Homo sapiens: one gene and its partners. The protein of the gene in region 1 purifies or fractionates together with the protein of each later gene. This does not show direct contact. Each region holds a gene or a part of one and is shown on either strand. Other genes may lie near its edges. The genes, in order: PTPRB, VEGFA and PTPRS.

Region 1 (3,650 bases):
AGAGCCAAGTCATGAATGAACTCCCATTCACAATTGCTACAAAGAGAATAAAATACCTAGGAATCCAACTTACAAGGGATGTGAAGGACCTCTTCAAGGAGAACTACAAACCACTGCTCAACGAAATAAAAGAGGACACAAACACATGGAAGAACATTCCATGCTCATGGATAGGAAGAATCAATATCGTGAAAATGGCCATACTGCCCAAGGTAATTTATAGATTCAATGCCATTCCCATCAAGCTACCAATGACTTTCTTCACAGAATTGGAAAAAACTACTTTAAAGTTCATATGGAACCAAAAAAGAGCCCACATAGCCAAGACAATCCTAAGCAAAAAGAACAAAGCTGGAGGCATCACACTACCTGACTTCAAACCATACTACAAGGCTACAGTAACCAAAACAGCATGGTACTGGTACCAAAACAGAGATATAGACCAATGGAACCGAACAGAGCCCTCAGAAATAATACCGCACATCTACAACCATCTGATCTTTGACAAACCTGACAAAAACAAGCAATGGGGAAAGGATTCCCTATTTAATAAATGGAGCTGGGAAAACTGGCTAGCCATATGTAGAAAGCTGAAACTGGATCCCTTCCTTACACCTTATACAAAAATCAATTCAAGATGGATTAAAGACTTAAATGTTAGACCTAAAACCATAAAAACCCTAGAAGAAAACCTAGGCAATACCATTCAGGACATAGGCATGGGCAAACACCTCATGACTAAAACACCAAAAGCAATGGCAACAAAAGCCAAAATAGACAAATGGGATCTAATTAAACTAAAGAGCTTCTGCACAGCAGAAGAAACTACCATCAGAGTGAACAGGCAACCTACAGAATGGGAGAAAATTTTTGCAATCTACCCATATGACAAAGGGCTAATATCCAGAATCTACAAAGAACTTAAACAAATTTACAAGAAAAAAACAAACAACCCCATCAAAAAGTGGGCAAAGGATATGAACAGACACTTCTAAAAAGAAGACATTTATGCAGCCAACAGACACATGAAAAAATGCTTATCATCACTGGTCATCAGAGAAATGCAAATCAAAACCACAATGAGATACCATCTCTTGCCAGTTAGAATGGCAATCATTAAAAAGTCAGGAAACAACAGATGCTGGAGAGGATGTGGAGAAATTGGAACACTTACACTGTTGGTAGGAGTGTAAACTAGTTCAACCACTGTGGAAGACAGTGTGGTGATTCTTCAAGGATCTAGAACTAGAAATACCATTTGACCCAGTGATTGCATTACTGGGTATATACTCAAAGGATTATAAATCAAGCTACTATAAAGACACATGCACGTGTATATTTATTGTGGCACTATTCACAATAGCAAAGACTTGGAACCAACCCAAATGTCCATCAATGGTAGACTAGATTAAGAAAATGTGGCACATATACACCATGGAATACTATTGCAGCCATAAAAAATGATGAGTTCATGTCATTTGCAGGGACATGGATGAAGCTGGAAACCATCATTCTCAGCAAACTATCACAAGGACAGAAAACCAAACACCGCGTGTACCACTCATAGGTGGAAATTGAACAACGAGAACACTTGGACACAGGGCAGGAGACATCACACACTGGGTCCTGTCGGGGGGTGGGGGACTGGGGGAAGGATAGCACTGGGAGAAATGCCTAGTGTAAATGACGAGTTGATGAGTGCAGCAAACCAACATGGCACACGTATACCTATGTAACAAACCTGCACATTGTGCACATGCACCCTAGAACTTAAAGTATAATTAAAAAAAAAAAAGGAATGAGTGCTTAATGTGACATACTGGCAAGGACATATATTGGAAAGGAAAGTACTTTCTTCTCTCTACATTCTATTGTAATTACCTATTTATTTACTTATCTGATTTCCCCATTACTTTAAGGAATAAGATGTATTTAATGATTTGCAACCTTGGCTGCACATCAGAATCACCTAGGAAGTACTTTAAAAATACAATACCTCATTTAGTCAGCTTAGAGGATAAAGCTCAGGTTTTATACTCTAGTATTAGTTAAAAGCTGCCATGTGAGTCTAATATGCAGCTTGGGTCAAAAATCACTTGTGGAGGGCACCTTAGTACTAGCACAGGGTACCTGAGTGCTAGCACAAGCTCTGGCACATAGTAGGTGTTAAATAAATATTACCTGGAAACTTGAATACAATCATTAATGTGTCTTTTATGAAACAAATATGAAACATGTGGCTTAGATTTTTACCTTCATAGGTCTGCTTTCTTTCATGGAAGAACACACAAAAAAATTCACATCCCATAGATGAACAACACATGTATTTGTGCTGCTGTAGATTATAATACTTAGTTACCAACTTAAACAATGATTTGAAATCACTCATTGCAAACATATGAATGCATTTCGGTTAATTTTTCACAGTAGCTACTCTAGCAAGTCAGTGAGCTCTCATGATATAGGTCTACAAGTATTATTCTTAAACTTTTATCAGGGCTGGGCATGGTGATTCATGCCTGTAATCCCAGTACTTTGGGAGGCTGAGGTGGGAGGATCACTTGAGCCCAGGAGTTGGAGGCTACATTGAGCTATGATCACACCATGGCTCTCCTGCCTGGGCAACAGAGCAAGACTTTGTTTCTAAAAACAAAAACCAAAGAAAAAACAAAAACAAAAAGAAAAAACCCCACAATGGCATATTTAAGATGGAGCAGAAAAATATATCTGTTAGCTTATAATTGTGTTAAAGCAAAAGTATGTGTTATACTTATGTGTACTCAAATATAAGGGTGTTTTTGTACCACAATTGTGCAAATTTTAACTTCTGCTTTTTCTAGAAATTAATTTCTTTCCCCAACACATATTATCAGGCATTTTTTGAATATAGCATTGTTCAGTGGTTAATTGCAAATGGCTTATTCTAGTTACCTTATTTTCGAAGTCTATTACTAGACATATTTGTATGAGGGTCATAGGAGGTAGTTTTTCTATGAATTATCTTTTATCTTGAATAACTCACCACTGAGTCCATATCTACTTTTTTTTAAAGTTCCAACTAAGTAATCTTATGTTAAATAAGGTTTGATTGGGGTTTGGGGATGAATCTCACTTCTTGTGTAAAACAGTAAAAATGGAACAGTTATAATGTTTCTATATTATTTAGGAGAGGCCTTGATAGATGAACCACAGGAAAGGTATTGTACAAATTGGTGCTATATGCTGAATATTTTCTGATAAAGTTGAATTTTTGAGTAGGTTTTTTTCTCATAGGCAGAAATGATATAAGAACAGAAACTATAACTCTCAACTTTTATTGTAGCAAAGCATACCACTTATTGTAGAAAAGCATAACACATTCAAATGGCATCTAGTTAAATGCTTGTTTTAACTTACAGAATGAATGAGTGAGAAAAAATTGTCCAAAGATTACCATGGTGGAAAGACTAATATAAGCCTCACAAATCAACACCTAAGGAAAAGACTTAACAATACAGTGGATGCTGATCTCCATATTGGATTATGGATCAAAATTTTCTGGTGATTAATAAATATCAAGTATTATGCACAAATCCAGATTTCCTGAAACAGAATCTTGGAGGTGGTTGTAGAGGAAAAAATGGTGGGAAAGAATCCTGGGAATGTGTATT
Region 2 (3,650 bases), on another chromosome or scaffold:
TTTGCCCTCTTGGGCGGGGTTATCAGTGGCTGGCAGGGCTGGCACAGCGTGTCCGCCCACTGCCACCTGTGGGTTCCAGGAGGGCCCAGCCCCTGTGCTGATGCCCACCACCTTCTCAGCTCATGTCTGGGGAAGAGGACTGGCAGGGGGAAAGGTGCCTCCTCCTGAAAGGTGCCTCCTCTGTTTTTGCCTAATATAGGCTTGGGAACACTTTGATGTCAGCTAATTCTGACTCCTTTACTTACTAGCTGTGCGGCCTTGGGGCAACTTACTTAGCCTCTTTGAGCCTCCTGTTCCCCATCTGTAAAATGGAATCTCAATAGTGTCTAATAGTACCATGTGGAGAAACTTGTGTGAAATGATAGCTGTGGACTACTGTACACAGTACTCAGGATGTAGTAAGTGCTCAATAAACAGCTGTTGGTATGGTTGACGTTATGGTAGTGGTTGTGGGGAGGACGTAGGAAACTGGAGACTAGCTTGGCAAAGCTGGCTCTTCCTCCTTTTAGGGAAAGCTTAGAGCATCCCCATGGGGTATACCCATACTCAGACTGTCCTCTGGCATCGAGGTTGGCCCAGGATTCAGTTCAGCTGTCACAGTGAGGTGGCGGGATCAGATGTGGCAGGCCATGTCCCTTGGAACTTGAGTACATCGTGTGATCTCTGGAATGAAAACAGGCCTTCACCAGTGTTGATGGTGGAAAGCTTAGGGAAGTGCTTCAAACACAGTAGGAGGGACTTACGTTAGATTTTGGAAGGACTTGCCTGATTCGGAAGCTCCAAAGAGTGGCATTACAGAGCTGGGTGGAGAGAGGGGCTAGCCATCTTTTGTGTCGCCCACCGGGCTCATGTGTCATCGCCTCTCATGCAGTGGTGAAGTTCATGGATGTCTATCAGCGCAGCTACTGCCATCCAATCGAGACCCTGGTGGACATCTTCCAGGAGTACCCTGATGAGATCGAGTACATCTTCAAGCCATCCTGTGTGCCCCTGATGCGATGCGGGGGCTGCTGCAATGACGAGGGCCTGGAGTGTGTGCCCACTGAGGAGTCCAACATCACCATGCAGGTGGGCATCTTTGGGAAGTGGGGCAAGGGGGGGATAGGGAGGGGGGTAACACTTTGGGAACAGGTGGTCCCAGGTCGTTTCCTGGCTAGATTTGCCTTGTCTGGCTCCTGCCCCTGAGTTGCACAGGGGAGGTATGGTGGGGTCTTGCCTTCTGTGGAGAAGATGCTTCATTCCCAGCCCAGGTTCCCAGCAAGCCCCAACCATCTCCTTCTCCCTGATGGTTGCCCATGGGCTCAGGAGGGGACAGATGGATGCCTGTGTCAGGAGCCCCTCTCTCCCTCTCTTGGAGAGAGTCCTGAGTGCCCCCCCTTCTTGGGGGCTTTGTTTGGGAAGCTGGATGAGCCTGGTCCATGGAGAGTTTAAAAAGTCTTTTGGTGTTACCTGGTAATGGGGCACATCTCAGCCCAGATAGGGTGGGAGGGAGCTGTGAAACACAGGGAGGGGGTTGCTTTCGGGTATCTACTAGGAGTCAGGGTGAAGCCTAGAGAGGATGAAAGAAGGGGAGGGGATGGGGAGTGGTAAGAACCTAGGATTTGAATTCCCAGCCTGGCCAACCCTTGCAGCCATGTCTTGGCCTCAAGTGGAACAAGGGCTCCTTGAGGCCAGCAGGGTTGGGGGAGTTGGGGTGGGCCTGAGCCTCTTTCCTGCTAGAGCTCTTGGTCCTCCCTGCCTCCACCACCCATCCCTGCTCTGCAGAACCCCTGGGTGCTGAGTGGCAGGAGCCCCAGGGTTGTCCCATCTGGGTATGGCTGGCTGGGTCACTAACCTCTGTGATCTGCTTCCTTCCTTTCCAGATTATGCGGATCAAACCTCACCAAGGCCAGCACATAGGAGAGATGAGCTTCCTACAGCACAACAAATGTGAATGCAGGTGAGGATGTAGTCACGGATTCATTATCAGCAAGTGGCTGCAGGGTGCCTGATCTGTGCCAGGGTTAAGCATGCTGTACTTTTTGGCCCCCGTCCAGCTTCCCGCTATGTGACCTTTGGCATTTTACTTCAATGTGCCTCAGTTTCTACATCTGTAAAATGGGCACAATAGTAGTATACTTCATAGCATTGTTATAATGATTAAACAAGTTATATATGAAAAGATTAAAACAGTGTTGCTCCATAATAAATGCTGTTTTTACTGTGATTATTATTGTTGTTATCCCTATCATTATCATCACCATCTTAACCCTTCCCTGTTTTGCTCTTTTCTCTCTCCCTACCCATTGCAGACCAAAGAAAGATAGAGCAAGACAAGAAAAGTAAGTGGCCCTGACTTTAGCACTTCTCCCTCTCCATGGCCGGTTGTCTTGGTTTGGGGCTCTTGGCTACCTCTGTTGGGGGCTCCCATAGCCTCCCTGGGTCAGGGACTTGGTCTTGTGGGGGACTTGTGGTGGCAGCAACAATGGGATGGAGCCAACTCCAGGATGATGGCTCTAGGGCTAGTGAGAAAACATAGCCAGGAGCCTGGCACTTCCTTTGGAAGGGACAATGCCTTCTGGGTCTCCAGATCATTCCTGACCAGGACTTGCTGTTTCGGTGTGTCAGGGGGCACTGTGGACACTGGCTCACTGGCTTGCTCTAGGACACCCACAGTGGGGAGAGGGAGTGGGTGGCAGAGAGGCCAGCTTTTGTGTGTCAGAGGAAATGGCCTCTTTTGGTGGCTGCTGTGACGGTGCAGTTGGATGCGAGGCCGGCTGGAGGGTGGTTTCTCAGTGCATGCCCTCCTGTAGGCGGCAGGCGGCAGACACACAGCCCTCTTGGCCAGGGAGAAAAAGTTGAATGTTGGTCATTTTCAGAGGCTTGTGAGTGCTCCGTGTTAAGGGGCAGGTAGGATGGGGTGGGGGACAAGGTCTGGCGGCAGTAACCCTTCAAGACAGGGTGGGCGGCTGGCATCAGCAAGAGCTTGCAGGGAAAGAGAGACTGAGAGAGAGCACCTGTGCCCTGCCCTTTCCCCCACACCATCTTGTCTGCCTCCAGTGCTGTGCGGACATTGAAGCCCCCACCAGGCCTCAACCCCTTGCCTCTTCCCTCAGCTCCCAGCTTCCAGAGCGAGGGGATGCGGAAACCTTCCTTCCACCCTTTGGTGCTTTCTCCTAAGGGGGACAGACTTGCCCTCTCTGGTCCCTTCTCCCCCTCCTTTCTTCCCTGTGACAGACATCCTGAGGTGTGTTCTCTTGGGCTTGGCAGGCATGGAGAGCTCTGGTTCTCTTGAAGGGGACAGGCTACAGCCTGCCCCCCTTCCTGTTTCCCCAAATGACTGCTCTGCCATGGGGAGAGTAGGGGGCTCGCCTGGGCTCGGAAGAGTGTCTGGTGAGATGGTGTAGCAGGCTTTGACAGGCTGGGGAGAGAACTCCCTGCCAAGTACCGCCCAAGCCTCTCCTCCCCAGACCTCCTTAACTCCCACCCCATCCTGCTGCCTGCCCAGGGCTCCAGGACACCCAGCCCTGCCTCCCAGTCCAGGTCGTGCTGAGCAGGCTGGTGTTGCTCTTGGTTCCGTGCCAGCTCCCAAGGTAGCCGCTTCCCCCACACCGGGATTCCCAGAGGTTCTGTCGCAGTTGCAAATGAAGGCACAAGGCCTGATACACAGC
Region 3 (3,650 bases), on another chromosome or scaffold:
CCCTTGATGGCCGGCACACCCTCACCTTTCTTCTTTTTTTCCCCCTTCTCACCTGTGTCTGCTTTCGGGAACAGCAAACCCGACAGGTAAGAACCAGCCCTCCCCCGTGGAGGCTTCAGGCAAGAGGAAGAGGACAGGGAATGGGCTGATAGTGTGCCCACAGGAGAGGGGATGCCCGGCTGCCCCCACAGCTTGTACACGTAGCTGTACTTGGTCCTGGAAACCCTAGTCATACGGGTCCATGGTCCTTTTCTTACCATGCATTCCTGGGGCCTGAATTGTGTTCACACATGAACATGTGCCACTACTAACTGGACTGTTCCGCTTGCTTCTCCTAAAGTAAACGCAAGGACTCAGAACCCCGCACCAAATGCCTCCTGAACAATGCCGACCTCGCCCCTCACCACCCCAAGGACCCTGTGGAAATGAGACGCATTAACTTCCAGACTCCAGGTATGTACTTATCCCTGGTACCAGGGATGCCACCAACAGGGGAGATAGCTGGGGAGAAGCAGTAGCTGCCACCCTGGGGGCCCCTCATTGGCCCCCTCTGAACTATGCTTGGTGCAGCCACATTCTGGATTCCCAAATACCTCCAACCCTACATGGATCTGGGCTTGGAACTCATAGGTTGGTTCTGCTTACAACCAAGTGAGGCTTTTTTTTTTTTAAAGTTAACATTTAACCAATGGCTGCTGTCCTCTTCAGGAGCCTAAAGACGATGTTTAAAAAATGGAGAAAACACAAATAAACCCCTCATTTCTTTGGGCAGAAAGAGCTATTCTTCTGTTTATGTCTCTGGTTTTAATGTTCCTCGGTGGTGGGAGTTGAGGTTTGCCCTCAGCCATTTTCCACACTCCCTTGGGATATATCCCTAGCAAGGTACAGAAATTATACCTGCCCAATGCCCTGTACCTCTTCCCACCATGGCTGCCAGGGTTCATGCCTCTTTATAGTTCCCTGTAGATTAAAGTCACCTGACAGTCCAGGAGAACTGAATCAAGGCCTTATCCTTGATCATTTTCATGTATGATTCACAAACTCTACCATCTCCTCCCTCTTCATGGGCTCATGCCAGCTGCTTCTAACCAAATAAGGAATTTTTCATTTTACTGATGGCTGCTATTCTCCTTATGGGTTCACAGCCAAGTTACATCTGTCCTTCCAACTGTACCCGGTCTCCACTTCGTATCTCTGAACTGGTTCATATCAACTCTATTTTCCAACCAAATGAAGATTTTAAACATTTGTATTTCACTGATGTCTTTAGTCCTCCTTAAAGCCTCATGCATAGCCTCACATGCCATTCCTGATGTACTTTCTTTTTTTTTGTCTCTGGACTGGCTTGTGTCACTTCTGTTTTCATCCAAATGAGGAGTTTGACCATTAGTATTTAACTGATGGCTGCTGTCCTCATAAAGGGATCATGCAGGGCCTCATGTATCACCCCTCGTGTATTCTCTTCCCTTTCTTTCCTCTGTACTGATTCGTGTTGCTTTGGTTTTTCAGCCAAATGAGAATTTTAAATGTGCATGTAACTGACGGCTGCAGTCTCCTGAAGGGATCATGCAGAGTCTCACAATTCACCGCTAATGTGCTCCCATCTCATTTCTGTCTCTGGACTAGCTGATGTCTGTTGTGTTTCCATCCAAATAAGGATTTTCAACATGTGCATTTAACTGATGGTTGCTGTCCTCCTTGAAGCTCATGGCATGGGCCCATATGTCCTTTCCCTGCTCCCCCAGCTTCTCCTTCACCATCCTGCATCCTCCTTCCTCAGAATGCCCTCTGCTGACCTCAACAGAGGGGACCCAAGGCCAGGCTGGTCTGGGGGAGGGGATCTGTAGACAGAAGAACCTAGCACTTTGGAGTCCTTCCAGAGTGACGGGTCAAGACCAGGATTGACTGGTGTCCAGCCAGAGGGGTACACAGTTAGCAGCTATCGTGAGTCCTCAGGTGGGGGCCCAGGTGGCTGTACATACCCCCCGTTGTCCGCGTTGCTCTGCCCTTTGCATCCGCCAGCCAGTGAGGGGTGGGGGAGGCAGAGGTGGGACCCCCCCCTACCCCCTGCATGTTTTCATTTATTTATTGTTTGCTGTTTGCAGATTCAGGCCTCAGGAGCCCCCTCAGGGAGCCGGGGTTTCACTTTGAAAGTTAGTTCTTGTGTCTGTTTTTGGCTTCCTTTCGCCCCCGCCCCCGTTCATTTCCTCTTTGGTTTCTCCATCGTGTCTCCTGTCTCTGTCCACACGCCCACCCATCACCGGCCTTTGCCCACCTGTCTTGTGCTGGCTCCTGGAAGAGGGCAGGGGGTTGGTCCATTGGGCCCTCAGGTGGCTGTGTGTGACTGCTGTGTGTGTGGTGTGTATGTGTGTGTCAGGGATGTGGGTGAGGCACGTATGTACCCAGGACGTGCCCACAGGACAGGCAGGCCCCTTAGATGTGAGCTCTTGGGGGGCACCCAGGACAGCTAGGGACACATGGAAGTCTCAGAACATTAAATGTTACCAGCTGGTCTGGAAACCACCTGAGAGCTGAACATCCGGTACACAGGTCCCAGGAGAGGTCAGGGTTCTGCAGACCCAGATATCGGGAAGGGAGAACCGAGCCCACACCCAGCACCTTCGGCAGCCATCCTAGGGGGCTTGAAAGGATAAGAGCTCTCAGGCCAGGGCCTTCTTGCACCTGCTCCTGCCCCAAGCAAGCGCAGGGACAGATGGGGACCCCTCACTCCTCTCACGTACACACACACATACTGTTTCCCCTCCCTAGTCTGTCGCCTCTACCTGGAAGCGGATTTCGTGCCTCTGATCCCAGAGGGACAGAAAGGGGTGTCAGTCGCCCACCCAAGGACAGTATTTCCAAAGCACAGCCGGCTGCGTCTGCAATTTAATTTCTGTGCCACACACTTGCTTCTTGGCTCGAGGCACTGGGAGCTTGACATCCTCTGGGGTGACCCTTCTGCCAGCCCCTGCACCCCCAGCTTGGTTGGAAGGAAACAGGATGGGCCAATGCTGTGATCCAGGCCCCTCCAGGGGTGTCAGCCTCTGCACGGAGCAGAGGGCCTCAAACCTGCTGCCTTTAGAGTCCCCTAGGCCTGGGGTCCCAGCCCCTTCATGAGCCACCCTGAGTCTTCCCCTCCTGCCAAGCCCCACCCCGGCCATGCCCTTCTAACCACAGCTCACCCATCGCAGACTCACACGTAGATCACCCCCCTCCCCCGAGTCCCCGGCTGGCCCCCCAAGTGACCAACCCCGGCGGGGTCTGCTCCACCCTGTAGGCATGCTTAGCCACCCGCCAATTCCCATCGCAGACATGGCGGAGCACACGGAGCGGCTCAAGGCCAACGACAGCCTCAAGCTCTCCCAGGAGTATGAGGTGAGCCCACCCCCGCCTCCCACCCTCATCACCTCGGCCTCACAGGCACCTACCCTGACACCCGCGCTCTCCCCTTCCTCTGTAGTCCATCGACCCTGGACAGCAGTTCACATGGGAACATTCCAACCTGGAAGTGAACAAGCCGAAGAACCGCTATGCCAACGTCATCGCCTATGACCACTCCCGTGTCATCCTCCAGCCCATTGAAGGTAGTTCGGAGATCCCGGGTCTTAACCTGCCCTTCCCCACTGCATGGAAAGTGCTAGATCCCATGT

Evidence for each region.
Region 2: the proteins of PTPRB (region 1) and VEGFA purify together in Homo sapiens (affinity purification with western blotting; one study listed by BioGRID). This does not show direct contact.
Region 3: the proteins of PTPRB (region 1) and PTPRS purify together in Homo sapiens (affinity purification with mass spectrometry; one large-scale study listed by BioGRID and IntAct). This does not show direct contact.

Annotation. Positions count from the first base shown.
Region 1 is NC_000012.12:70,630,796-70,634,445, forward strand, and holds part of PTPRB (receptor-type tyrosine-protein phosphatase beta), read right to left. Parts: intron 1-3,650. UniProt on the Homo sapiens protein: Plays an important role in blood vessel remodeling and angiogenesis. Not necessary for the initial formation of blood vessels, but is essential for their maintenance and remodeling. Can induce dephosphorylation of TEK/TIE2, CDH5/VE-cadherin and KDR/VEGFR-2.
Region 2 is NC_000006.12:43,776,598-43,780,247, forward strand, and holds part of VEGFA (vascular endothelial growth factor A, long form), read left to right. Parts: intron 1-871; coding exon 872-1,068; intron 1,069-1,862; coding exon 1,863-1,939; intron 1,940-2,291; coding exon 2,292-2,321; intron 2,322-3,650.
Region 3 is NC_000019.10:5,215,223-5,218,872, reverse strand, and holds part of PTPRS (receptor-type tyrosine-protein phosphatase S isoform 1 precursor), read left to right. Parts: intron 1-74; coding exon 75-86; intron 87-340; coding exon 341-453; intron 454-2,105; coding exon 2,106-2,153; intron 2,154-3,277; coding exon 3,278-3,375; intron 3,376-3,460; coding exon 3,461-3,584; intron 3,585-3,650. UniProt on the Homo sapiens protein: Cell surface receptor that binds to glycosaminoglycans, including chondroitin sulfate proteoglycans and heparan sulfate proteoglycan.